6 linked regions of the Homo sapiens genome follow. The protein of the gene in region 1 purifies or fractionates together with the protein of each later gene. This does not show direct contact. Each region holds a gene or a part of one and is shown on either strand. Other genes may lie near its edges.

Region 1 (3,974 bases):
GTCCGGAAGTTCTTACTCATATCTCCAGAACCAAGTCAGCTCTCACATTTGCAGTCATGTCTTTCCCTGCTTCCCTGGCAGTTACTCACACGTTATCTGTGTTCCTGCAGCACTTTTAGGGGTTGCCAGAGCACTTATTATATCGCTCAAGGTGAGTGCTTTTGCTGATTTGAAATTTCCTTGCTTAGCACAGTGACTAAAGCACAGATAATGCCCAACAAATATCTGTGGAATAAGTGCAGCATAGGTTGCGTGGTTCACGAGGAAGAGCCCTGTAGTGGCATCATAGGATGCAAATTGTAGCCCAACTTTGTCACAAAATGAATCTGCAGACAAGTTATACAGCTAAAATGTTCACATAAAATCATATAGCAATTGAGGGATTATTATTATGTGGGACAGTTTTATCTCTATTGAATTTACCTAGAGCCGCCTCTCTTTCTCTGTCTCTCTCTCTCTTTCACACACACACACACACACACACACACATCATACCACAAAATACCAGTGAAATGTCTCATGCTTATGACCAGAGTGTGCAGTTAACGTTGGCGCTGTCATCTGAACTTCCCTGGATCTCCATGTCAAAGCCCCGCCCCACTGGTGAGGCGCAGCATGACTCTGTCTCTCTCTTCCCCACCACTGTTACTTACCTGAAGACTTCAAACCCCCAGCCTGCCAAGGCAGTGAAAAGTCTGGGACTCAGGTCTCGAGCTGGGTTCATGGCACAGCCACTGTTCAGTCCCAGGGAGGAAGCAATGACAATAATCAGGAGGCCGATGGCAATGGGCTCTAGGCCTCTGGGGGCTCCCAAGTTTCTGGAGTCAAAGATGGCAAAGACGATTATGAGGAGTATCATGGTGGCCACCACCTGGAGAGGGAGAAGTTGAGCCAGGGCTTTAGCCTGCATTCTGCTCACCTGCATGTCTCAAAATCATCCCTTCTTACTATTTTACAATATTACAATATTACTATTTTACTTATATTACAATATGCCTAGTAATAACTGGCATGTACTGGGTGAATAATTGTGCCAGTCTCTCTTCTTTCTACAGCAATTCTAGAGGAGAAGCCAATATAATTCTCATTTACAGATTGGTTACCCTGCCCACTTAGTAGGTGGCAGTCAGGTTTGGATCCAGAGAGTTTGGCTCCAGAGACTGTTATCTTAATACCACACTATCCTGCTAAGCTACTACTCAGCTAAGTAGAACGGCAAGCTGCAGGCTGGAAAAATGAATGAAAGGCTTGTTCAAATTGGTGAGAAAAGCAATGTGAGATATCAATAGATGAGTGTGCAAAGGAAGTGAACAGAAAATTCAAAAAAGGAAAACAGAATTAGGAAAGCAGTGGTAAAAACTCATTAGTAATAAAATAAATCCAAACAATATCAAATGTTAGGAAAAAGATACCCGTTATTTCAGGCTTTTCTAATAGATCTAAACAAGTACTATGCTTTTAAAAGGAAATTCAGCAATAATTTAGCAATATGCATTCAAAAACATAAATTTATTTATACAATTTGATGCTGCTGGATGTTTGAGAATTACACAATGGAAATAATCTAAAACGTGGAAAAATCATTTTAAAATGTCCACTTTAGCAAAATTTATAGTACTGAAAAACTGGAAGCTTTTACTCTTTTTTTAGTCTACTGTATAGCCATTAAAAACTATAAACATAAAAGCTATGTAGTAATATTTAAAAATACTTATAACATTAAGTGAAAAAAATTTGTATTTTTTTGTTTGTGTTTGTGTTTTGTTTTGTGTTTTATACAGCTGTCCCTTGGTGTCTGTGGGGGATTGGTTCCAGGACTTCCTGCAAGTACCAAAAATCCATGGATGTTCAAGTCCCCAATATAAAATTGTGTATTATTTGTATATAACCTATGCACATCCTCCTGTATACTTTAAATCATCTCTAGATTATTATAATATCTGATATAATGTGAATACGGTATTGTTTAGGGAATAATGACAAGAAAAAAGTCTGTACATGTCCAATACAAATGCAATTTAAAAATATTTTTGATCCATGGTTGGTTGAATCCATGGATGCAGAATTCATGGATATGTAGGGTTGACTCTACTTAAAAACATACGTAAAAGAAAAATTTTAAGACAATAAACAAAAATGATAATAGGTATTTGAATTGGCCAATTATAGCTGGTTTCTATGTTATTAGTTTTCCAAACTACTGTTTTACTTTAACAGTTAAATGATAGCTATTATTTATTGAACATTTATTATGTGCCAGGTACTTCATATGCTTTATCTCATTAAAACTTCACAGTAATGCTGTGAGGTAAATCCTGCTATTATTCTCAGTTTATAGATAAGAAAACTCGAGTAAAACAAGGTTAAGACACTTGTCCAATGTCAAACTTGTAAGCAGAAGAATCAGGATGGGAACCAGGCAACTGATTTTAAAGTTTAAGTTCATTATCATTTCATCTGCTTTCCAAAATAATAATGTTAAAATAATTTTTAATTAATATTAAAAGACACATGTTCCCCCAAGAGCACTCTTCTCTGGAATGCCTTCTCCAACTCTCTCTTGCAGAGTAAAAGCTCCCTCCTCTGGGCTTCCATGACATTCTGACTTTACTTGTATCAGTGTCCCTGTCACTCTGCAAAAGAGTATCTACTTACTTGTTAGATTGAGCCTCAGACTCTGAACTCCTTGAAGAAGGAAGAGTATAGAGCTGTACTTGGCTAAGTAGGTGCCCAGTAAATAGTTATTGGGTAAATAAATGATTGATTATTAACTAAACCAAGGAATATGCTTGAAGAGTATTTACAGCTAAACAATTTAGTAATCTTGAAATAAGGTGACCCCAAAATATGGTCATGATGGCCAAGAGCTCTGTTGGGTGTTGACTGACTGATAATTGGCAATTTTTGGAACTCTCTCCAAAGCCTAAGAATACGGACAGCATTCAGGGTTTGCTGACGGTTACAGCCTCAGGGTTTTCTAATATTCGCTTTTTCTACTTGACTTTATACACAATAATGGGCTTAGAAACCACAGACCTTAGAGAAATTGCCAACTCACTCTGAGACAAGGACACAATGAAGGAAGCTCAGGATATGGTATGCAGGTCAGCATTGATCAAGATACAGCTTTGGGAGGCTTAGGCAGGCGGATTATGAGGTCAGGAGTTCGAGACCAGTCTGGCCAACATGGTGAAACCCCGTCTCTACTAAAAATACAAAAATTAGCCAGGAGTGGTGGCTCACACTGGGAATCCTAGCTACTCCAAAGGCTGAGGCAGGAGAATTGCTTGAACCTGGGAGGTGGAGGTTGCAGTGAGCTGAGATCACGCCACTGCACTCCAGCCTGGGGCAACAGGCTCAGTCTTAAAAAAAAAAAAAAAAAGCTTAGAGAAAAACACCAAAATAACCAAAATTGTCCTCGCTCTTCTATGCTCTCTGCTTCAAATTTCTATTATAATATGGTCGCTATACTCCAGTTTCCTATCTAATTTTCTTCTTTTTTGCCCAGGCTGAGGTGTGGTGGTGTAATCATAGCTCACTGCAGCCTCCAACTCCTGGGTGCAAGCTATCCTCCCACCTCAGCCTCCCAAGTTGCTGGGACTACATGCAAGCACCACCACGCATGGCTAATTTTTGTATTTTTGGTAGAGGCAGGGTTTTGCCATGTTGCCCAGGCTGGTAGTGAACTCCTGGGCTCAAGTGACCTGTCCACCTTGGCCTCCCAAAATGCAGGGAGTAAGATGTGAACCACCGTGCCCAGCTCTGTCTAATTATATCTTATTTTGCATTGTTTCCTTGTTCAATGCTCTTCAACTAGATTCAAAATTTCTGGGCAGATACTGCTTACAATGCGTTTTTCTCATATTATTCTTTTTATCCTCATAAGTAACTTCATGAAGGCTCATATTATCCCCATTTTACAAGTGAATAACTTGCGACCCAAAAAGTTCAGTACTTTGCTGAAGCCACGCAGG
Region 2 (3,974 bases), on another chromosome or scaffold:
TGGTCAACAGGTGTGTGCTGCAACAGGAGCCCCTGTGTGACCAGCATCACCTGAGGCTTCCCCAGAGGAGGTACTGAGTCAGACCCTGGACAGTCCTGGGCCCCAGAGCTCACGTGTGCAGCCTTGACAAAGCAGTTCCCATTCAGACCACCGTACGCAGGAGGCCCTACGTGGTCAGGCAGCAGCCATAGGGAGCTCCTCCTGGGAGGATGTGGGGGACACCCAGGCAAACCAGGAGGGAGAATGGTTGGGTCCTGGTGGGAGAAGTGAAGCCAGAAGCCAGAGACGTGGGGGCACCAGGACAAAGGGCAGGAGGGTGGGGATGAGGCCTAAAGAGAAACAGGAACCCCAGGCCACAGCACAATCTGGTAATTTCTTAAGAAAGATGACTCTCATTAAGGCATGTACCTTTCATCAAGCATATTAAAATTGCTTTTAAATTTAGTGGCCTAATAAACATGCATGGGATAAACCAGTGAATCACCAAGATGTTCCGTGTCATAGAAACGATGGGACATGTGTATCTATATGACAATGGCAGTGAAAATGCCTCCATTTTGCTTCTCAGTGTATTCTACTTTGGTTTGCAGGAGGGGACACTGTGTGGGGTATGCGCCGGGCACACAGGCTCACTCACACGGGTTGGCACCATCGGCCACAATCAGCATGCGCAGTGAGCTGAGGCTGACGTCCCTCTGGCCCCGCTGAGCTAGGAGAGACCAGTGCATGTCTCGCGACTTCACCAGCGCGGCCCGAGCTGCAGAGAGAGGATGGCACAGACATCCCTGCGTCACAAGGACTGGCACCCTCACACGCCTACAGACACGTGTACCTCATCCCACAGAGAGGTGTACATGCACAGACAGACACAACACTTAGCTCCCAGGTCACAAGCTCTCTGCAGCCGTCTCTCACATGCAGTCTAACAAACCCTCAAAGCTTTTTCCACAAAAATCAACTCTGAGGTACAATTTAGACATCAAAACCTCAGATCCATTTCCAACATTAATTTTTTCTTAGAAGCTCCATATTGCTCTTTTCCTATCTGCCCGCTTCATCTCATGTTGTCCTTCCCCAAACCCCTGGTGCTGGCTGAGAAGTGTGAGGACCCCAGAAGCTAAACAGATGGTCTCAGGCCTCAGTCTGGCCCCTGCACTGGCTAGCATGTGGAATCCAGCAATCCCCCCACCCCTACCCAAGCTTCAGTTTCCCTCCATAAAGTAGGACAGACAGAGAGAGCTGCCCCTCCACACTGCTCTGAGACATGTCTAGAGGGGCACAGCCCAGTAGGTAGAACAAGGCAACATGGGTGACCCAGGTGATCCAGTGCCTCAGTGGCTGGTAGAAGTGCCACTGAGCTCCACAGGGCAGAGACACAGACTGCCAACTGTGCAGGTGTGGCCATGCTGGGGCCTCCTGCTTGGTCCCAGGAGGCACCTCAACCGTTGAGAGAAGTAAGGCCCAGACCCCACCAAGTGGCCCTACTTACCACATCACCCACGAAACCCTGAGGGCCATGCCAGAGGCAGAGAAAGCCCCCATATTCCTGGGCAGGGGTGTGACCAAGAAAGACGTCCCACAGCTCTTCAGCCTACATCTGCAGTTCCACATGTCAGCTTTATTTTTTCTTAAGCACCAAAGGTCAGTTCAAAGAGATTTCCCTAAAGAAGGGTGAAGGCCCTGACCATGGTATCCGTTACCTTTATAGAAGCACACTTTCTGGATCCAGGAGAGTGGGTTCGCCTTCATCAGCGCGTAGGGGACGCTGACCACGTGCATCCTGTTCATGACGCTCTGTGGGGGAGCACACATGCTTAGGGCGAGTGGGCCCGAGCCACACCAGAAAAAGCAAAACAAAACCGATGTACTCTCCCAACAACATTTCAGGCAGAGGCTTGGGTTCATCTCAATCCCTTGTTCCAACAGTTAGTCATCAGCAAACAACACTCACTGTTAACACGCCATGCCACAGACCAGCATCCCTTTTGAAATCCAGCACGTTTGTTAATGTTTCAGCTGCAAGTGGACAAAGAAGGTGACACCACTGAGCAACCCTCTCAATAAGCCCTATGCATTTTCTAGAGAAATTCTGAGGTGAGTACGTCATCAACATGTAAGTTTCAGGAACAGATACAGCATTTCCAAATACCACATACCAATTAATAATAATCCTGGTTATCTATTCAAATTACTGGAAACACATAAAAGTAGAAGGTCATGGAACTAACACAGAGAACCACGCTGAGCACTAATCAGAAGGCACAGGAACATCACATACTGAAGAAGCTATACAAGGTGTCACCACAGCTTGTCTTTTCTTCTTTTTTTTTTTTTTTGAGACAGAGTCTTGCTCTGTTGCCCAGGCTAGAGTGCAATGGAGCAATCTCAGCTCACTGCAACCTCCGCCTCCCAGGTTCAAGCAATTCTCCTGTCTGAGCCTCCCGAGTAGCTGGGACTACAGGCATGCGCTGCCATGCCTGGCTAATTTTTGTATTTTTAGTAGAGAAGGGATTTCACCACGTTGGCCAGGCTGGTCTCAAACTCCTGACCTCAAGTGATCTGCCCGTCTCAGCCTCCCAAAGTGCTGGGATTACAGGTGTAAGTCACCGCACTCGGCCTCTCCACATCTTCTCATCAGATATTTTTGAGTGGGTATTCTTCTCAGAATCAAGAGGTGGGGATGAAAAACTGTCAGGGATATTCTTACTTCTCAACTCTACACCACATCTCCTCAATTCTCACACCCAGAGGCCGTGATCCGGCATCTCCCCTCTGTAAGAGCTGGTGGTTTGCATCACCCTTCGGAAAGTCACTCTTCCTCTGCCCGTTTTCTCACCCAGAGGTATGCAGCTAACACATCTTAGGAAGCTGGAGTGGATAGGGGTCCTGAGGGTTCCCAGCACAGCTCTCTGCTCAGAGCCCCTGGCCAAGTCTTCTCTAATATCCGGCTCCCACCTTGCACAGGCAGAAAGGACAGAGCCTGGGGCTGTGGGCAGACCTGGCTTCTCGCCAAAGGCCACAGCACTCCAAAGGCAAACAGGAGAGGTTTGATTTGTGTGCCAGGAAATGCTGTTGCACCATGAATAACAGTACTATAAACACCCTTTCTCTGTTGGTTAAGAACACAAATTATTATCATTATTATTTAGAGACGAGGTCTTATTACGTTGCCAGGCTGCAGTGCAGTGAATATTCATAGGCACAATCCCATTACTCATTGGCATGGGAGTTTTGACCTGCTCCCTTTCCTACTTGGGTCGGTTCACCCCTCCTTAGCAAGCTGGTGGTTCCCCACTCCTAGAAGGTCACCATGTTGCTGCCAAACTTCGTGCAGATACCTGGTTAGCACAGCCCACTACAGCCCAAAACTCCTGGGCTCAGGCGGTCCTCTTACCTCAGCTTCCCGAGTAGCTGGGACTATAGGCACACATCATCACGCCTGGCTAAAGAACCCAAATTGTAGGTGACATATGTAAGATCAGCTCTGAGCTGAAGACAAAGAAAGTCACGGGGCTTGATCTGAAAGATCTAACTTTTTTAATAAAGCCCTTAAAAAATACCTAAAATCACTTTCCAAATCTCAAGTAAAAGCTTTAGCTGTGCCCTCAACTTATACCCTTGCTTTTAAACACCTATATTTTTTTCTTTTTTAAAAATTCTATTTAAAATTTCTCCCTTTTTTTGTAGAGACAGGGTCTCACTATGTTGTCCAGGCTGCTCTCAAACTCTTGACCTCAAGTGTTCCTCCTGCTTTAGCCTACCAAAGTGGTGGGATTACTGGTATGAACCACTGCACCTGGCCTGAACACCTATATTTTAGATATTTAGACATACCATTCAATTTCACTCAGTAGTTTTGTTCAATTCTAGTATTACAATGTAAGAAAACTACTGAGTCCATTTTTACAGTTTTTAAAATTGTCACAGTGTACCCCATAAATATATACAATTAGTACTTATCAATTAAATAATAT
Region 3 (3,974 bases), on another chromosome or scaffold:
CCTTGAATTGGGGAAGCCAACAACTGGGGAGCCTCCCCAAGAGGGAGTAAGGGTTGCTTCTGTCCAGCCAGGCTTATAGTTGGGGCTTGTGACTGGTAGGAATGCTGAGTAGTTGGTAAGGAGCAGGGTTGTGAGCCCTTGGAACATGGTCATTAGAGAGTCACTGCTATCAGTGAGATGGGCTGCTGGCCACCCTGGTGCCTTCTGTCAGGGAGTCCCAAGGCCCTGAAAAGCCTGTTTCCAATTTGTTGCATTGTTAGTGGGTTCTTTTAGGTTTTACACAGCTTTTGAGTTAGGTAGGGGACATGTATGTGCATCTCTAAGCCTTATGGGATGGGGAGTCACCTCCACAGCCGCTTCTTCTACCTTGCCTGCACAGTTTTGCATCTGTTGGTCATTTGTGCCAGCATTCTCTGCAGCCTGTGCAGTGGAGAGAGCCACCTGAGGGCTGGCCCTCACGCTGGCCCTGGCTCGCTCTTTTTATATGACCTCAGAGGTCCCTTATCTTCTGTGCATGGGGGACTTGGGCCAGCTGAGCTCAGCGGAGTCTTTCAGAGCAGCATGGGCTTGCCGATATGAGCCGAGTGCCCTGGAGATGGGCCAGGGGAAGGAGCTGGAGGGATGTGGCTTTATCTTATTTCCTGTGCCTAGCATAATGGTGGCATTTCTCTAGCCTGGTGGGCAAGGGCAATGGATTCCCAAGAAGAGTGGCGTGCATGGACCAGGGTGTGGAGCACACCCTGGGCCAGATAATCGCAGGTGGACATCAGGTCTTTGAAGATACCAGGGAACTGGTTTGAATGGGAGGCCCTTGAGAAGCCACTCTGGAGGAAATACCTCAAGCCAGTGAAAGAGCCCCCCTCCTGGCAGCTGTCCCCCTGGCCTGTGGAATATAGGCTGGCTGACAGTGTCAGCTTGGCACAGGCTGGGATTGTGGGGAGGGTGCTGTGGACCCAGGATGAGAGATTTCCTTGTGGCAGGGAGGCTGTGGAGTCCCCCTGGTGCCAGATGGCTCTCTGGGCCTATTGGGTATGCCCCTGTGCTGATGGCAGTGGTAGGAGACATGGGAGGGTGACATATGTCAGTCCCGACTGGGGCATTTGATGGCGTCCGAGAAGACAAGCAGGAGCAGGTGTTTGAGGAGGGGAGAGTGGGCCTGTGGGACCCACGTCTTCCTCCTAAGCTCTAATGGCATTCTGTCGGCTTTTAGGCCTCACTTGGCACATCTCAGTGTGTGTGGTGGGAAGGGTCAGGGATGCGTCTGCTGTGCACTGTCTTCTTCTGACCTCCCCTTCCCCAAGACTCTTCCAGCAAAAGCAGGAAGACTGGATGGAGACGCAAAAGCTCTGTCTGCTTTCCTAGCTGAGGACGGCAGGCCAGTTTCTCGCTCTGACCAGCCACCTGCCTGCCCTGCCCCTGGTATTGTGCTGCTGGAGGTGCTGTCCATGTTGAGCATACTGTGAATAGCATTCCTTGGAGCTGTGCAATGAAGCGACTATGCAGGCAGCTGCCTTTTTGTTGCTCAGTTGTTTAGTCATTTGTTCATGTATCCTTCCGTCCCACTCCTTCTCTCTCCTGTCCTCCCTCCATTATCTGTTTATTTATTTATTCTTTGAGCGTATTCCTGCCCTCCTGGAACTTATAGTCCACTGGGAGCACAGACATTTGTGGATATAATTACAGTAAAGGTCTATGAGAGCCATGATGAGAGAAGAACAGCTGCTACTGGGGCCTAGAGCAGGGGCGCCTGACCCGCCTCTGGGGGCTGGTGTCAGAGGCAGCTTCCGTAGGCTAGCAAGGGATGCTTCTATAGGCAGTAGGCTACTGCTACTTCATCTTTGGGCTGTGTGTAGAAAGTAGGTCTTGGAACAAGCCCACCCTACCCAGAGGGCCTTGCCTGTTCTTCTGCTCTGCCCTGTAGAAAGTGTATGAGGTGGAGGTTCAGAGGACAAGGGTGACTCTCAGGTATCTGGCTTGGTGGTACTGAGTTGGGGCTGTCCCTGTACTTTCAGCCCATTCCTCTGTGGTTAAGGGTTAATGATCATTCAGTGGCCCCCACTGCCTGGAAGGCTCACTCCTCTGCCCGCAGCCTGACCCATCCTGACCCCTGCCCTCCCACTAGCCACACCATGGAACACCTGCCCTCCTGCAGGGAGCCCTTCATCAGCCTGGTAGATGTGCCAGCAGCCCCTCCTAGCAAGTTTCCTCCTCCCACCAATTTCCAGACTTACCTGCTCTTAGGTGCTCACTTCCACTCCTGCTCCCCTGGGCTACCAGCCCACCTGGCCACACACCATGGCATAGCTTTGGTTTTCTCTGAACATTTCTTAAATACAATACAATCATATGCTTCCCCATGACCTGTCTTCTGTTGTCTCTGTTAGCTAAGGATTTTAAAATGTTAACTTTTTCAGGTACAAAAACCGTAATTGAATTTTAAGCATCTTCTGAGGTCTATGTCTTAGTCATCATTTCACCCCTCCCCACCTGCAGGTAGTTTGTGCTTATTAAGTATCTTGATTTGAAAATGATGAGATTATCCTTGCTGTGTGAGATTTGCTGATGGCCCATCAGTAGATTAAAAGTGAAGGAAGTTGAGGTGGCTTGAAATAGGATTCCTATTTCAAATTCCTGACACCTGCTGCTTTTTTAAGCCAGATTTTTTACCAGCAATATCTTAAGAATCTTGGCTTACTGCAACCTCCGCCTCCCGGGTTCAAGCAATTCTTGTGCCTCAGCCTCCCGAGTAGCTGGGACTACAGGCCCACACCAATACGCCCGGCTAATTTTTGTATTTTTAGTAGAGATGGGGTTTCACTATGTTGGCCAGGCTGGTCTCGAACTTCTGACCTCAAGTGATCTGCCCACCTCAGCCTCCCAGAGTGCTGGGATTATGGGTGTGAGCCATGGTGCCCAGCTGGATCATGTAACCTTGGTCATGCGCAACTCACAATTCATCTCAAAAAACCTGAAGTTCTTGGGGGGCACTTCCTCATTCCTAGTCTCTGAAGAAATACATGAGAACAACCAGGCCACCAGAGGTGGAAAGGGACACACCAGACCTCAGCTTGCCAGAGCTCACTTTGACATCTGGAAGAAATCACCCTGTTGCCCTGAGCCTTAGCTTCCTTCTCTTGATTTCTCTCCTCCCAATTTTTCTCCTTTCCTCAGTGGCTGGCATAAGAAGGGGCACCTTTGTGGAGGTTGGGTACAGGCCCAGAACCTTTGCTTTTTTATTTGTTTAAACAGATGTGTGTGAGTGAGAGAGTCAGACAGACACCAGGATGAGAATTAACCTGTACTTGGTATAAGAGGAAGGTGGCACCTTTAATCTGATGATGCATAGCAAGAGAACTTGCCAGCAAAGAAAAAAGAAACTTAGAATATGTTCTGGCTGCGTAGATGTAATAATAATTACTGTCTTTTGCATGATCTGATGATCATTATCATTTGCAGCCCCCAGATTATAATGAATCACATTAAATTATAACAAAATAAGGCTGGGCGTGGTGGCTTACGCCTGTAATCCCAGCACTTTGGGAGACCAAGGTGGCAAGGTGGGTAGATCACTTGAGGTCAGGAGTTCGAGACCAGCCTGGCCAACGTGGCAAAATCCTGTCTCTACTAAGAAGTACAAACATTAGCCAGGCATGGTGGCGCATGCCTATAATCCCAGCTACTTGGGAACCTGAGGCAGGAGAATCGCTTGAACCCGGGAGGCGGAGGTTTCAGTGAGCCGAGATGGCACCACTGCACTCCACCCTGGGCAACAGAGCAAAACTCCATCCCAAAATAAATATATATATATATATATATATATATATATATATATATATATATATATATATATATAACAAAATAACCTTATTGTCCTTTTGTTCCTTATTCTATCCCTAAAATCAGTCTATGACTATCTTTATAGATGTTGCCCCGACATTGCAAACTTTGCAGACTGGCCGGGGCCAGGCCCAAGG
Region 4 (3,974 bases), on another chromosome or scaffold:
AAGCAAGAAATTCCTTTAGAAGTATTTTCCAGTTCAACAGAAAGTAGGATACTCTTTTAAATTAACATAAAATTCCAATTTTAATACCAAATCAAGTCTTAAAGCAGAAGAGTCACTCTGGTTCTTCCATGGAATCTGGTTCTACTTTTCACTTTCTAATACAATAGTTTTTTGTAGGGGGTGAAAATACTAGCAGATTCAGAAAACAAGCTTCAACTCCTAAACTTTACCTTTAAATAGTATGTTCACTATGTAGCAGGTACCATGTTAAGTGTTTTACATGAATTACTCACTTTTATCTTCCTGTGAGGTACATACTATTAACCTCAAGTTATAGCTAGCTGCATAAGATCACACAGAAAGCAAACATTGGAGCTGGAATTTAAAACTAGGCAGTCTGACTCCCAAGCCCCCTCTTAAATCAAGCCTTCTAAAAAAAACTCCTACTCTGTTTCATTTACAAGACTGTTAATCTGTTATTGAGGATCAACTGAAACCATGTGTACAGAAGAGAAGATGTTGGGGCTTAACTGTATGAATACAGTCGAACCAGGAAAACATAGGCCTGTTTAAGAAAGTGAATTGAATAATCTGGTTAAATTAGTTGGTATGAGTAGAAGAAAGAAAGACTGGGCCAGAATGTGAAGGGCCTAACATAGCAAGCTCTGACTTCATCCAAGAGACAGAGCAGGTAGAAACAGGCAGGTAGAAATGTACATTTATGGGCCAGGTGCAGTGGCTCACGCCTGTAATCCCAGCACTATGGGAGGCCGAGGCGGGCGGATCACAAGGTCGGGAGATCAAGACCATCCTGGCTAACACGGTGAAACCCCATCTCTACTAAAAGTACAAAACAATTAGCCAGGCTTGGTGGCGGGTGCCTGTAGTCCCAGCTACTCGGGAGGCTGAGGCAGGAGAATGGCGTGAACCTGGGAAGCAGAGCTTGCAGTGAGCCGAGCTCATGCCACTGCACTCCAGCCTGGGCGAGAGAGCAAGACTCCATCACCAAAAAAAAAAAAAAAAAAAAGAAATGCACATTTATGGAGAACCCACTATGAGTCCAGGGCTGTGCTGGGTGTTCTAATATAAGATATATGAAAACATTTTGAAACTGCAAAGCTCCTTGCAAATATAAGGTATGATGAGTTCCAGAGAACTTTAGGGAATCTCTCCTGGCTCTTCCTTTTACTCCCACCCCTCTTCCAATCTGTAACTAGATAGAGGGGGCAGAAATAGAAGAAAAGGGACTAGCAATCTATCTCCTCCCCATCTGTCACCTAAACACCAATAAATCAACAAAAGTACAGAAAGCCTACTAATATGCAAAACACTAAGCACTAAGCTATAGATCAAGTCCTAAGAGCAATATTTCTTTATATCAGAGGCAGTCCCTGTCCTTAAGAAACAGAAAATTAAATAAAGGCACAAATATTTAAAACAAAGAAACTTCACAATACAATAAAAAGCCACCAAAGATTTCAAACAAGTGCTAGAGAAGAGCTGTATCACTTTTAGGTATAGTTCAGAGACTTTCCTGAGGATAAGGAATACGTGAGGTAAGCAGGCTTTTAAACTAGGCTGGGCTCAGTGGCTCACGCCTGTAATCCTAACACTTTGGGAGGCTGAGGCAGGTGGATCACCTGAGGTCAGGAGTTTGAAACCAGCCTGGCCAACATGATGAAACCCTGTCTCTACTAAAAATAGAAAAATTAGTTGGGCATGGTGGCACGTGCCTGTAGTCCCAGCTCTCAGGAGGATGAGGCAGGAGAATTGCTTGAACACAGGAGGCAGAGACTGCAGTGAGCCGAGATCACACCACTGCACTACAGCTGGGGCAACAGAGCAAGACTCCATCTCAAAAACAAAAACATAAATAAAATATTAGACTAGACAGACAACAAATCACCTTTTTAATAAACTGAAACTTACTTTAAATGAGCTCATTATATAAAGAAAATTTGTCTTGAATTCTTATAGAAGAAAGGGGATTCATAATCTTACCCATTTTGTATGTTTTACTTGTTTAATTTTTATCTTTGTTAAGGCAAAGCATACCAACACTACAATAATTATACAAAGTTAAATAACCTAGTGTAATATATTCTTTATCCATACCTGAAACTAGGCAAAGGCAGCCAACCTGGTAAGAGCCAGGCTGCATGGCTGAAACCTCCATCCAAATCTGCATACAGCTGTGCTACCTTTTCATTGAGTTGACTTCTGATTTCCTTTCCATGCAAACAATGGCTAGCTGTTAAAATTATGAGCTCAGAAAGAGCTTCAAACACATCTAGGGAGAAAAAAAAGATTATTCTCATTACTATTTCCAAAAAGTGAAAGAAAATTGAGAATTAAAAACAGAACTCAAGAAGAAACAAGATCCTATTCATATCATCAAAAAAAGTCTGTAGACAGACATGTGACTATGTACAACAACAAAGAGGGGCAATAAACCAAACAATGTGAAGCACCCTGTCCCTCTAAACAGCCAAAACAGATCCCAGAAACACATCTCAAAACCCCACTCATGAGCACTTCATCATGAAAAGAATAAATGTGGTTATTTGATTTCCAGGTCACAATAACAAAAGCAGAAAAAAGGTTATTTATAGTGCATATGACAATAATAAGGTACTTCCCAAGGAATAGTAGCCAAAGATCAGATTATTTCCCAGGTTAAAAGTAGGAAGATCAGGGCCAAAATGGAATTACTGGCGATATGTAAAAGAAAACTATAATCACCAATTAGTATATCCCAACACTGGAGACAAATGCACCAGGCAAGCATAATTTGATGACAACTAATAAAAATTATCCAATTAATTTCCTGTTAATTCCACATTCACTAAATGAACTTCCAATGATCATCTGGCTTTCCAATTATATTTGTCAATAAAAAGAATATCAGTAAATATTCTGGATTTCTTGGTGCTGTAATTATATGTCTCACATGCATTATTACATTGGCATTCTAATTTATACATCAGTTTCTTGTATGGTTAGAAAATATATCAATATCAACTTAAGTATACCAAAAACAAAGATTCTGGAACTCTTACAGAGGCCAAAGGCCAGACCCAGAATATAGTGACCTGCTGCCCTGGGTCCTGCTGCCCTGTGGGCAGATGTTGCTTCCTACTATGGGCACAGCAATTGCTTCTGAAGGCAATACTTAACTTGCAGCCCAGTATAAAAACTGGATTCTCAGTTACAACTTCATGGTAATCATTACATAACCCTCCCATAAATCTAAGGTAGTTTTACATACACTGTAATTTGTTTTTTATATACTACACACATATATACTCTACTTTTCTATTCACAGAGAAGTAGAAATGTTAGGACAAACATAAAACATTTTGCTTACTTTTTTCTCCACTTTCTCCCCAACTCTCAAAGTATTCCTTTGTTTCTTTTTCAATTATAGAAACATGCTGTTTAAAGTGGGCTATGTTAAGGCCACTTTTTAACATTTTCTTCTGCTCCAAGAAAACCTTCAAAAAAATTCAAAACGGGGATACGGCATTAAAACACATTTTTGTTTTATCATAAAATCCATTTAGGTTATTATAATTATGTAACACTAACACAAGTAATGGTTTTAACCCTTTGGGCATTTACATTTTAAGAGTCTAAATGAATAGATCTATCTGACTCTAAATGAATAGAGTCTAAATGAATATATATATCTGAACAGAGGGATTTTCCAGGGCCCTGTTTTTTGGCCTTAAGGAGAGGCATTCATTCCCTCATTCCCCATCACTAGAAACAAGATTTAATGTTAACTCTTAACTGCTATACTAGGGTACTGGCTAATGTGTGTTACATTCACAGCCAGAGCCCATACCAAGCATTGGGGCCAATTGTCTGATTTGTGTTCTATATCAACTTAAAACAATTTCGTATTTGGCTTTTGAGGGTAAAACATACACATAGATGTACCCCACACGTGAAGTTGTTGCATTAAAAGAGGA
Region 5 (3,974 bases), on another chromosome or scaffold:
TTAAATGGGATGAGGTGCATGCAACAGCTACCTGCCGTCTGCAGACAGGGTGTCTCTGGAAGCCTCAGTTTCCTCTCACCCTCCCTACGGCAGCTCCCTCCAGCCCCTAGGAGCAAATGTTCCTTTGCTGGGTGAATGATTGCTGTGTAATTTGCAGGTGTGAAAGAAACTGCACATCCACAGCTTCCTCATGTTTTACTTGGTGAAAAAAGGTCTTAACAGGCTCTTCATTCCATGAGAGAATTTTGCTCCCAAATAGCCTTTCTGCTCTGAAGTAAGGGTACAAAATATTTGTCAGCAGTTCCTAGTCCCTACTTTGCCAAATGCTAAAGGCACGCCCCGCCCACCACCACCCCCAACCATCCTGGCTGCCTTCCCCATTGTCCGCACTCATTGGCCGCTGGTCCTGCAGGTCCTGGTCCTGAGCCCAGTCCCCTCCTTCCTCCTCACCCAGCCCAGGGGCAGTTTAGGGCAGTAAAGGGCAAGTAATTCCGTAACAGGTCCTGGGGCAGGACCCAGGCCAGGGGAGCGAAATGGGCAAACACTGCCAGCCTCGGCTCCTCCTGATCCATCTGTCCTCCCTTCCGGCTGCTCTGGGCCTGTGTTGCCTCTTGGGATGGGGGACCCATGGAGCAGCAATCAGTGCTCCATGGAACACAGACAAATGAGCCCTGGGCTGGGAGTCAACGCCTGGGCTCCCGTCCTGTTTCTGCCACCAAAGTGATGGGTGACAGTGAACCAGTTATCACCCATCTCTGTTTCGTCCTCTGTTCCCTCCTCTGGACAGCGGCTCACACCTGTAATCCCAGCACTTTGGGAGGCTAAGGCAGGCGGATTATCTGAGGTCAGGAGTTCGAGGCCAGCCTGGCCAACATGGTGAAATCCTGTCTCTACTAGAAATACAAAAAAATTAGCCAGACGTGGTGGCGGCCACCTGTAATCCCAGGTACTTGGGAGGCTGAGGCAGCAGAATCACTTGAACCCGGGAGGAGGAGGTTGCAGTGAGCCAAGACTGTGCCATTGCACTCCAGCCTCAGAAATAAGAATGAAACTCTGTCTCAAAAAAAAAAAAAAAAAGGAATGGGGGACAGGCAGGGGCTAGAGGATGGGTCGTGAGAACCATTGGCTAGGTCTCTGCCCACCCAAGGTGGCTCTCAGAACATCCTCCCCGCCCCAGCACAGCCTGAGTGTCAGATGGCCTCATCCTCCTTATCCCCTGACCTTGCAGGCTGCAAGGCCCATGCTGCTCGGCAATATTCACTCATTAACTCATTGGTGGGGCCCCAGCCCCACCCCATCCCACACTCCCTGATCACCTGCTCTTCCTGTCAGAACCCCACCCACTGGCCTCCTGCGAGGAGCCCAGGACAGGTTGTCTGGCTGGCCTCTGACCTCTCAGGCTGCCAACAGCCCCATGTGTACCTTCTGTCCTTCCCCACAGAGCTGCGCATGGGCATGGGGGGATAAGGGCTGCAGAGGAAGAAGACTTTTGACACTGGCAATGCTTCTTCATGCTGCCAGTGACAGCAGCAACAAAACCACAAAACTCACAAGAACCCAGAAATCCAGGTGTCTATTTCGAACTGGGAAACTGCGTTCATCCCCCACTGACCCTGGAGGGAGTCCCCAGCCAGAGCCGACAGGGGATGGGAGAGAGAAAGACAAGGGCAAGCACATGGGTAGGAGAAAGGCGGTGCCTGGGGTCTGGAGAAAGTTCTGGGACCTACCCTGACCAGAAGGGGCCTGGTCCCCTGGTTCTTGCATCCTGTCCTCCAGCCCTTGCCCCCGATCCTTGATGGGGCCCACATCCCAGGAGGCAACGGCAGCAGGGGAGATGAATGACACCTCACTCCAGGGCTCAGGGGAGACCGCTGTCCCGGGTGTCCCTCCCCACAGCAACACAGGCTGCTGCAGCTTGTGTTTTTTGTTGTTTTTGTTTTTGTTTGATGGAGTCTCACTCTGTCGCCCAGGCTGGAGTGCAGTGGTGCGATCTCGGCTCACTACAATCTCTGCCTCCTAGGTTCAAGTGATTCTCCTGCCTCAGTCTCCTGTGTAGCTGGGATTATAAGCACGCCCCATCACACCTGGCTAATTTTTGTATTTTTAGTAGAGATGCGGTTTCGCCATGTTGGCCAGGCTGGTCTTGAACTCCTGACCTCAGGTGATCCGCCCGCCTCAGCCTGCCAAAGTTCTGGGATTACAGGCATGAGCCACCATGCCCGGCCCCATTTCCACCATCTTCAGAGGCCAAATGCCGGGATGCTGTGAGTTGAGGAAGACCCTGGTGGGTGGGCCTGGGAACCCAGGCACCTTTTAAAAAGTCACATTAGTCCCAAACCAGTGACTCAGAAGCTTCTGGAACACAGCCCACTGTAAGCTGGGGCCTCCTGCCTTCGATCTCAGGCTCCCAATCGGACCTTGAGAGCTCTCTGCCCCTCCTGCTCTGTTCCCAAAGCTGCCTCCCAGGCACTGCTTGCATGCCAAGGTCAGGCTCCCCTGGGATGCTAATATTTTTATTCTTGATTTCTATCTTTTTTTTTCTGTTTTCTAAGTTTTAGGGTTTTATGTCTTAGCAATACTCAAAGGAGAACAATCATGAGTTTAGAAGTGATCTCCGAGTAGCCACGTGGTGGGGCACCCAGGCCCCGGCCCAGCCCTGTGGCCATACCTTCTCAGTCCTTTTCCCTGGAAGCTCCAGGAGCCTCAAAATAAGCTCCTTGTCCACCTGAGGAGATGGAGCTAGAGAGACCAGTCATCCTCAGACCTCAGACCTTAGAACCTGGGATGCCTGGGCATGGTGGCTCACGCCTGTAATCCCAGCACTTTGGGAGGCCGAGGCGGGCGGATTATGAGGTCAAGAGATCGAGACTATCCTGGCCAACATGGTGAAACCTTGTCTCTACTAAAAATACAAAAATTAGCCAGGCGTGGAGGCGCGTGCCTGTCATCGCAGCTACTCAGGAGGCTAAGGCAGAAGAATAGCTTGAACCTGGGAGGCGGAGGTTGCAGTGAGCTGAGATCGCGCCATTGCACTCCAGCCTGGCAACAAAGCAAGACTCCGTCTCAAAAAAAAAAAGAACCTGGGACTGGCTAATGCATGGCCTGAAGAGATATGACTGGTGTTTCCACCTAGTCAATGACCAGAAACTCACAGCCCCCTCTACAGAGATTTGGGGTGGGGACGGCAGGGCAGCACATAGCCACTGTCTCCAGGAGGTGGGGTGGGAAGCAAAGCTCCTGCTCTCAGGCAGCTCTCAGTGCTCCAAGGAACATACACAAATGAGCCCTGGGCTGGGGGTCAATGCCTGGGCTCCCGTCCTGTTTCTGCCACCAAAGTGCTGGGTGACAGTGAACCAGTTATCACTCATCTCTGTTTCCTCCTCTGTAAAATGGGTAGTCTGGGCTAGATGCCCTGCCAGGCCCTGCCTATGTTAACATCCTCTACCCATTTCTAGAACAAATCAGCAGGATGAGACATGAGTGGAGAAATCAGCAGAGGAGTGGAAGATTCTGTCTGTCCACCCTGGGCCTGCACATAGCACCTGGTCTCCAGGACCCAGGCACTGACCTCCATGGCTGCTAGAGGCTCACGTCAGTCAGCAAGGATTCTGGGCACGCCCTGCCTCTCCTGACACCCAGAAGGTCACCGCTTCAGAGCTGACTCTACCCCAGCCCCACTAACCACAGAACAGAGCTGGCGTGGGAGTTAAGACATCTCTACCAGACAGAGCACTGCAGGGGCAGGAAGTGGGGGAGCCTCTCTTGACCATCATTGGCACGAGGCTGGCAGGCTGGGCACCAAACCCAGATGCAGACATCTCCGCCTCATTCTCTGGTCACCGGCTTGCTGGCTCCCCAGGGACACACACTGCCTACTGTCCCTCAGGTCCCCTGGTCTCTGCAGCCCCTGAGGGCCTGGCACTTGGTGGGAACACAATACTATAATAGTTAAGCTGAGGCCGAAATTCCACCCC
Region 6 (3,974 bases), on another chromosome or scaffold:
AACCCTCAATCTTACCCTATTGTTATTTATTTATTTACTTAAAGAGACAGGGTGTCACTCTGTTGCCCAGGCTGTAGTGCAATGGCATGATCATAGCTCACTGTAACCTCCAGTTCCTGGGCTCAAATGATCCTCCTGTCTTAGCCTACCTGGTAGCTGGGACTACAGGTGTACACTGCCACACACAGCTAATTTTTTAATTGTTTTGTAGAGACGAGGTCTCATGTTGCCTGTGCTGGTTGCAGTCTTCTGGCTTCAAGCAGTCCTCCAGCCTTGGCCTCCCAAAGTGCTGAGATTACAGGCATGAGCCATTCCTCCTGGCGTGTGTTATTATTTCTTCCAAGATGTTCTTTTCCTTTTCTGTGGAAGGTGTAAGCAAATTGGACAGAGCTAGCATTTTCTTCACAAAGCTCCTTGTAGAATCTGCTTCTTCCCTCCCTTTCTGGTATTACAAAGATCACTTAGCAGTCCTAGAAGTGCTGTCATCAGCTTTAACATGAGGATTATTTCTTAACCCCATCTAAAGATCCTGTTTGGTATGTGCTTACCATATAACTTGTGACACCCAAAGGCTGCATACCACAGGCAGAAGGTTACAAAGTGATGACTGCTAGATTGTTTACCAAAGATTAGCATGTAGTTGAGAGTTGAAATGGCTTAAAATACCACTGAGGCTCACAACTCTAAGCCATGGTTAATCATCTTCTGTGCATATTTTCGTATTGTAAAGATCATGTATTTCTTTCAAAAGAACTTGTGGACATTGAGTTCATAGATACAATAGGATCTAGCCCCCATTACTCTTTTGTTGGAGTTCTTGTTTTAGTTTTCTTTTAATTTAGTGACTTCATATCACCATTATCTACCAAGAACATTTGGAATATTTTTCTAGTTTGAGGAAAATAATTAAAGGATGCTATGTAGAAGCCCAGCCACTTAGCCCAGCTCTTCCCTTCCAGTCGGAGGACATATAATTCTCATTATGAATTATTAGATATTCTAGGAGGGTGGCCAAATGTTCATTTGGTAATAATTTTAAAAGCTCTTATTTTTAGTACCATGCCATGTATTGTTCAGAGAAGGATAACATTTCCTGTCTTCTACAGAATTACCAGAATCTTAATCTGTACTGACATGTCAACAGAGTAATACAATACATGGGCATTGAGTTCATATCCTCAAGCCTGTTTATGTATAATAACTAAAAATAAGAGATTCTATCCTCTTTTTTTTTTATAGGCTTTCTGTATTCTGCCACACCAGGGGCAGATGTTTGCTTTGCTCGACAACATAACACTTCTGACAATAACAACCAGTGTTTGCTGGGAGCCAATGGGAATATTTTGTTGCACCTTAACCCTCAGAAACCAGGGGCTATTGATAATCAGCCATTAGTAACTCAAGAACCAGTAAAGGTAAGTAATTTTACATCTAAACTTAAAATTATTCTCTTGCAAGCTATTAATAAATTTCATTTCAGAGGTTTTAGCACATAGCAAAACATTGATGGTTCATTTAATTACTGTATTATAGATGGACATCTCTTTGTATAGTACATTTCTGTGAGAATATTTATGATTTAGAACTTACATAGAAGTAGTTTAGTAACCCTTGGCATTATTGTTATTCTTACTTAGGACAGCTATTCTGAAAATGTTGTTTCACATACGCTATGTATGAATTTTTTTTTCCAAACTAGTATTTTTTATTGTTTGAAAGAAATCTGTGAAGTTATTTCAAGTGCTTTAGTGATTTTTCCAAATGATATGCTTTGAGTTTCATTTCTTACATAGTTTATTTTGAAAGTCAAAAATAAAAATCTCTCATTAAAAATTCAGTTTTTTTGCTGGACGTGGTGGCTCATGCCTGTAATCCTAGCACTTTGGGAGGCTGAGGTGGGCAGATCACCTGAGGTTAGGAGTTTGAGACCAGCCTGGCCAACATGGTGAAACCCCGTCTCTACTAAAAATACAAAAATTAGCCGGGCATGGTGACGTGTGCCTGTAATCCCAGATACTCGGGAGGCTGAGGCAGGAGAATCACTGGAACCCGGGAGGCGGAGGCTGCAGCAAGCGAAGATCGCGCCACTGTACTCCAGCCTGGGTGACGGAACAAGACCCCGTCTCAAAAAAAAAAAAAAAAAAAAAATTAAGTTTTTCCAGCAACATGAAACTGGGTGGTGATATATGAGTTTGTTTTCCTGTTTCTAGGTATTGCTGAGACCCAAAAACTTTTGTAATATTGAAAGTCAACATTGTCATTCTATTCTTTCTCAGGCTACATCATTAACACTAGAAGGAGGACGATTAAAACGAACTCCACAGCTGATTCATGGAAGAGACTATGAAATGGTCCCAGAACCTGTGTGGAGAGCACTTTATCACTGGTATGGAGCAAACCTGGCCTTACCTAGACCAGTAAGTATAGTTAATAGTGCCTTATATAAGGAGCAGTCATAGATGGGGGTCTTCTGTTACTTTTTCTATGTGACTCTCACTAACCACAAAGTAGCTCTTACCTTGTGGTAGAAGAGTGTTCTGAACCTGTGTGGATTGTTCAATGTTAAGTTCCTTCACATTCGTTCATTCATTCATAAATAAAGGCAAGGAAATAGGAGGCTGTTGAATGTGTTATCCACATAAAAGTAGACATCACCTAGGATATGTGGAACTTAGGCTGGAGGGGAAGACAGGCCAAGAGCCAGTGCCAAAAAGTTCAGTGAATGTAGGGCGTGATGCAGAGGTTATTTCTGAAACTACTATTCCTAACAATCACACAAGTATCTAGTTAGGGATTGGATTCTTCTTGTAGCTTTTGGTGGATTTTTGTGGTTTATGTTTTTGAAGGAGGGGCATATAAAAGATCACAACATATGATAACAGAATATTATATTAAAATATTAGTATATAGCACCATTTGTTGTGCTTACACGGTAAACAGCACTCGGTACTCTGGACACTCACTTTTTACATTGTTGATGAAGTAAAATATAACAAGATGTTTTGGTGGGATTTGTTTTGGTATATTAAGAAACACTCTTCCACCTGTAATCCCAGCACTTTGGAAGGCCGAGGCAGGCAGATCACGAGGTCAGGAGTTCGAGACCAGCCTGGCCAACATAGTGAAACCCCGTGTCTAATAAAAATACAAAAATTATCCAGTGTGGTGGCACACTCCTGTAGTTCCAGCTACTTGGTAGGCTGAGGCAGGAGAATTGTCTGAGCCCAGGAGGCAGAGGTTGCAGTGAGCCAAGACTGCACACCATTGCACTCCTGCCTGGGTGACAGAGCGAGATTCCGTCTCAAAAAAAAAAAAAAGAAAGAAACACTCTTCCTTTTATAATGTCCAAGCTAAAACTTCCTTATGCCAGGAAGGTTTTGTATAGATGAGATATGGTACGTTAACTTCTAAAAAGAGTAAAAATCTGTTATAAAACAGACTAATGTAATTTTGATGTTGATTTTGAGTTCTTAATAATTACGTTTATGAAAAATAACCTCAAGCTCCAGGGTTTGAACAATATTCCCACCTCAGCCTCCCCAATAGCTAAGACTGCAGGCACACACCACCATAACAGCTAATTTTTAAATTTTTTTAAGAGACAGAATCTTGCTGTGTTGCCCAGGCTGGTCTCGAACTCCTGGTCTCAAGCAGCCCTTCTGCCTTGGCCTCCCAAAGTGCTGGTATTACAGGCATGAGCCACTGCACCTGGCTTGTAGTGTTGTTTTTATTTGATTTTTATTGCTCCCTCTTGATACTAAAAAAAAAAAGTTCTGTTGCAGAAGATATTGGTTATGAGAGTAAAGGAAAATAAAGCCTGGTCACCTGAGACTTAAAAGACTCTGTACAGAGTTTCTGTTTTCAAGAATTTCAGTGTTGGCTGGGCGCGGTGGCTCACGCCTGTAATCCCAGCACTTTGGGAGGCTGAGGCGGGCGGATCACGAAGTCAGGAGATCGAGACCATCTTGGCTAAC

Evidence for each region.
Region 2: the proteins of AQP9 (region 1) and DIP2A purify together in Homo sapiens (affinity purification with mass spectrometry; one large-scale study listed by BioGRID and IntAct). This does not show direct contact.
Region 3: the proteins of AQP9 (region 1) and RAB6B purify together in Homo sapiens (affinity purification with mass spectrometry; one large-scale study listed by BioGRID and IntAct). This does not show direct contact.
Region 4: the proteins of AQP9 (region 1) and CYP51A1 purify together in Homo sapiens (affinity purification with mass spectrometry; one large-scale study listed by BioGRID and IntAct). This does not show direct contact.
Region 5: the proteins of AQP9 (region 1) and ADCY3 purify together in Homo sapiens (affinity purification with mass spectrometry; one large-scale study listed by BioGRID and IntAct). This does not show direct contact.
Region 6: the proteins of AQP9 (region 1) and USP32 purify together in Homo sapiens (affinity purification with mass spectrometry; one large-scale study listed by BioGRID and IntAct). This does not show direct contact.

The regions. Positions count from the first base shown.
Region 1 is NC_000015.10:58,176,025-58,179,998, reverse strand, and holds part of AQP9 (aquaporin-9), read right to left. Parts: intron 872-3,974; coding exon 654-871; intron 1-653. UniProt on the Homo sapiens protein: Aquaglyceroporins form homotetrameric transmembrane channels, with each monomer independently mediating glycerol and water transport across the plasma membrane along their osmotic gradient.
Region 2 is NC_000021.9:46,535,266-46,539,239, reverse strand, and holds part of DIP2A (disco-interacting protein 2 homolog A), read right to left. Parts: intron 2,017-3,974; coding exon 1,952-2,016; intron 1,795-1,951; coding exon 1,701-1,794; intron 758-1,700; coding exon 638-757; intron 1-637. UniProt on the Homo sapiens protein: Catalyzes the de novo synthesis of acetyl-CoA in vitro. Promotes acetylation of CTTN, possibly by providing the acetyl donor, ensuring correct dendritic spine morphology and synaptic transmission.
Region 3 is NC_000003.12:133,889,268-133,893,241, reverse strand, and holds part of RAB6B (ras-related protein Rab-6B), read left to right. Parts: intron 1-3,974. UniProt on the Homo sapiens protein: The small GTPases Rab are key regulators of intracellular membrane trafficking, from the formation of transport vesicles to their fusion with membranes. Rabs cycle between active GTP-bound and inactive GDP-bound states.
Region 4 is NC_000007.14:92,124,138-92,128,111, forward strand, and holds part of CYP51A1 (lanosterol 14-alpha demethylase), read right to left. Parts: intron 3,495-3,974; coding exon 3,368-3,494; intron 2,291-3,367; coding exon 2,116-2,290; intron 1-2,115. UniProt on the Homo sapiens protein: Sterol 14alpha-demethylase that plays a critical role in the cholesterol biosynthesis pathway, being cholesterol the major sterol component in mammalian membranes as well as a precursor for bile acid and steroid hormone synthesis.
Region 5 is NC_000002.12:24,913,616-24,917,589, forward strand, and holds part of ADCY3 (adenylate cyclase type 3), read right to left. Parts: intron 1-3,974.
Region 6 is NC_000017.11:60,220,852-60,224,825, reverse strand, and holds part of USP32 (ubiquitin carboxyl-terminal hydrolase 32), read left to right. Parts: intron 1-1,239; coding exon 1,240-1,415; intron 1,416-2,276; coding exon 2,277-2,417; intron 2,418-3,974. UniProt on the Homo sapiens protein: Deubiquitinase that can remove conjugated ubiquitin from target proteins, such as RAB7A and LAMTOR1.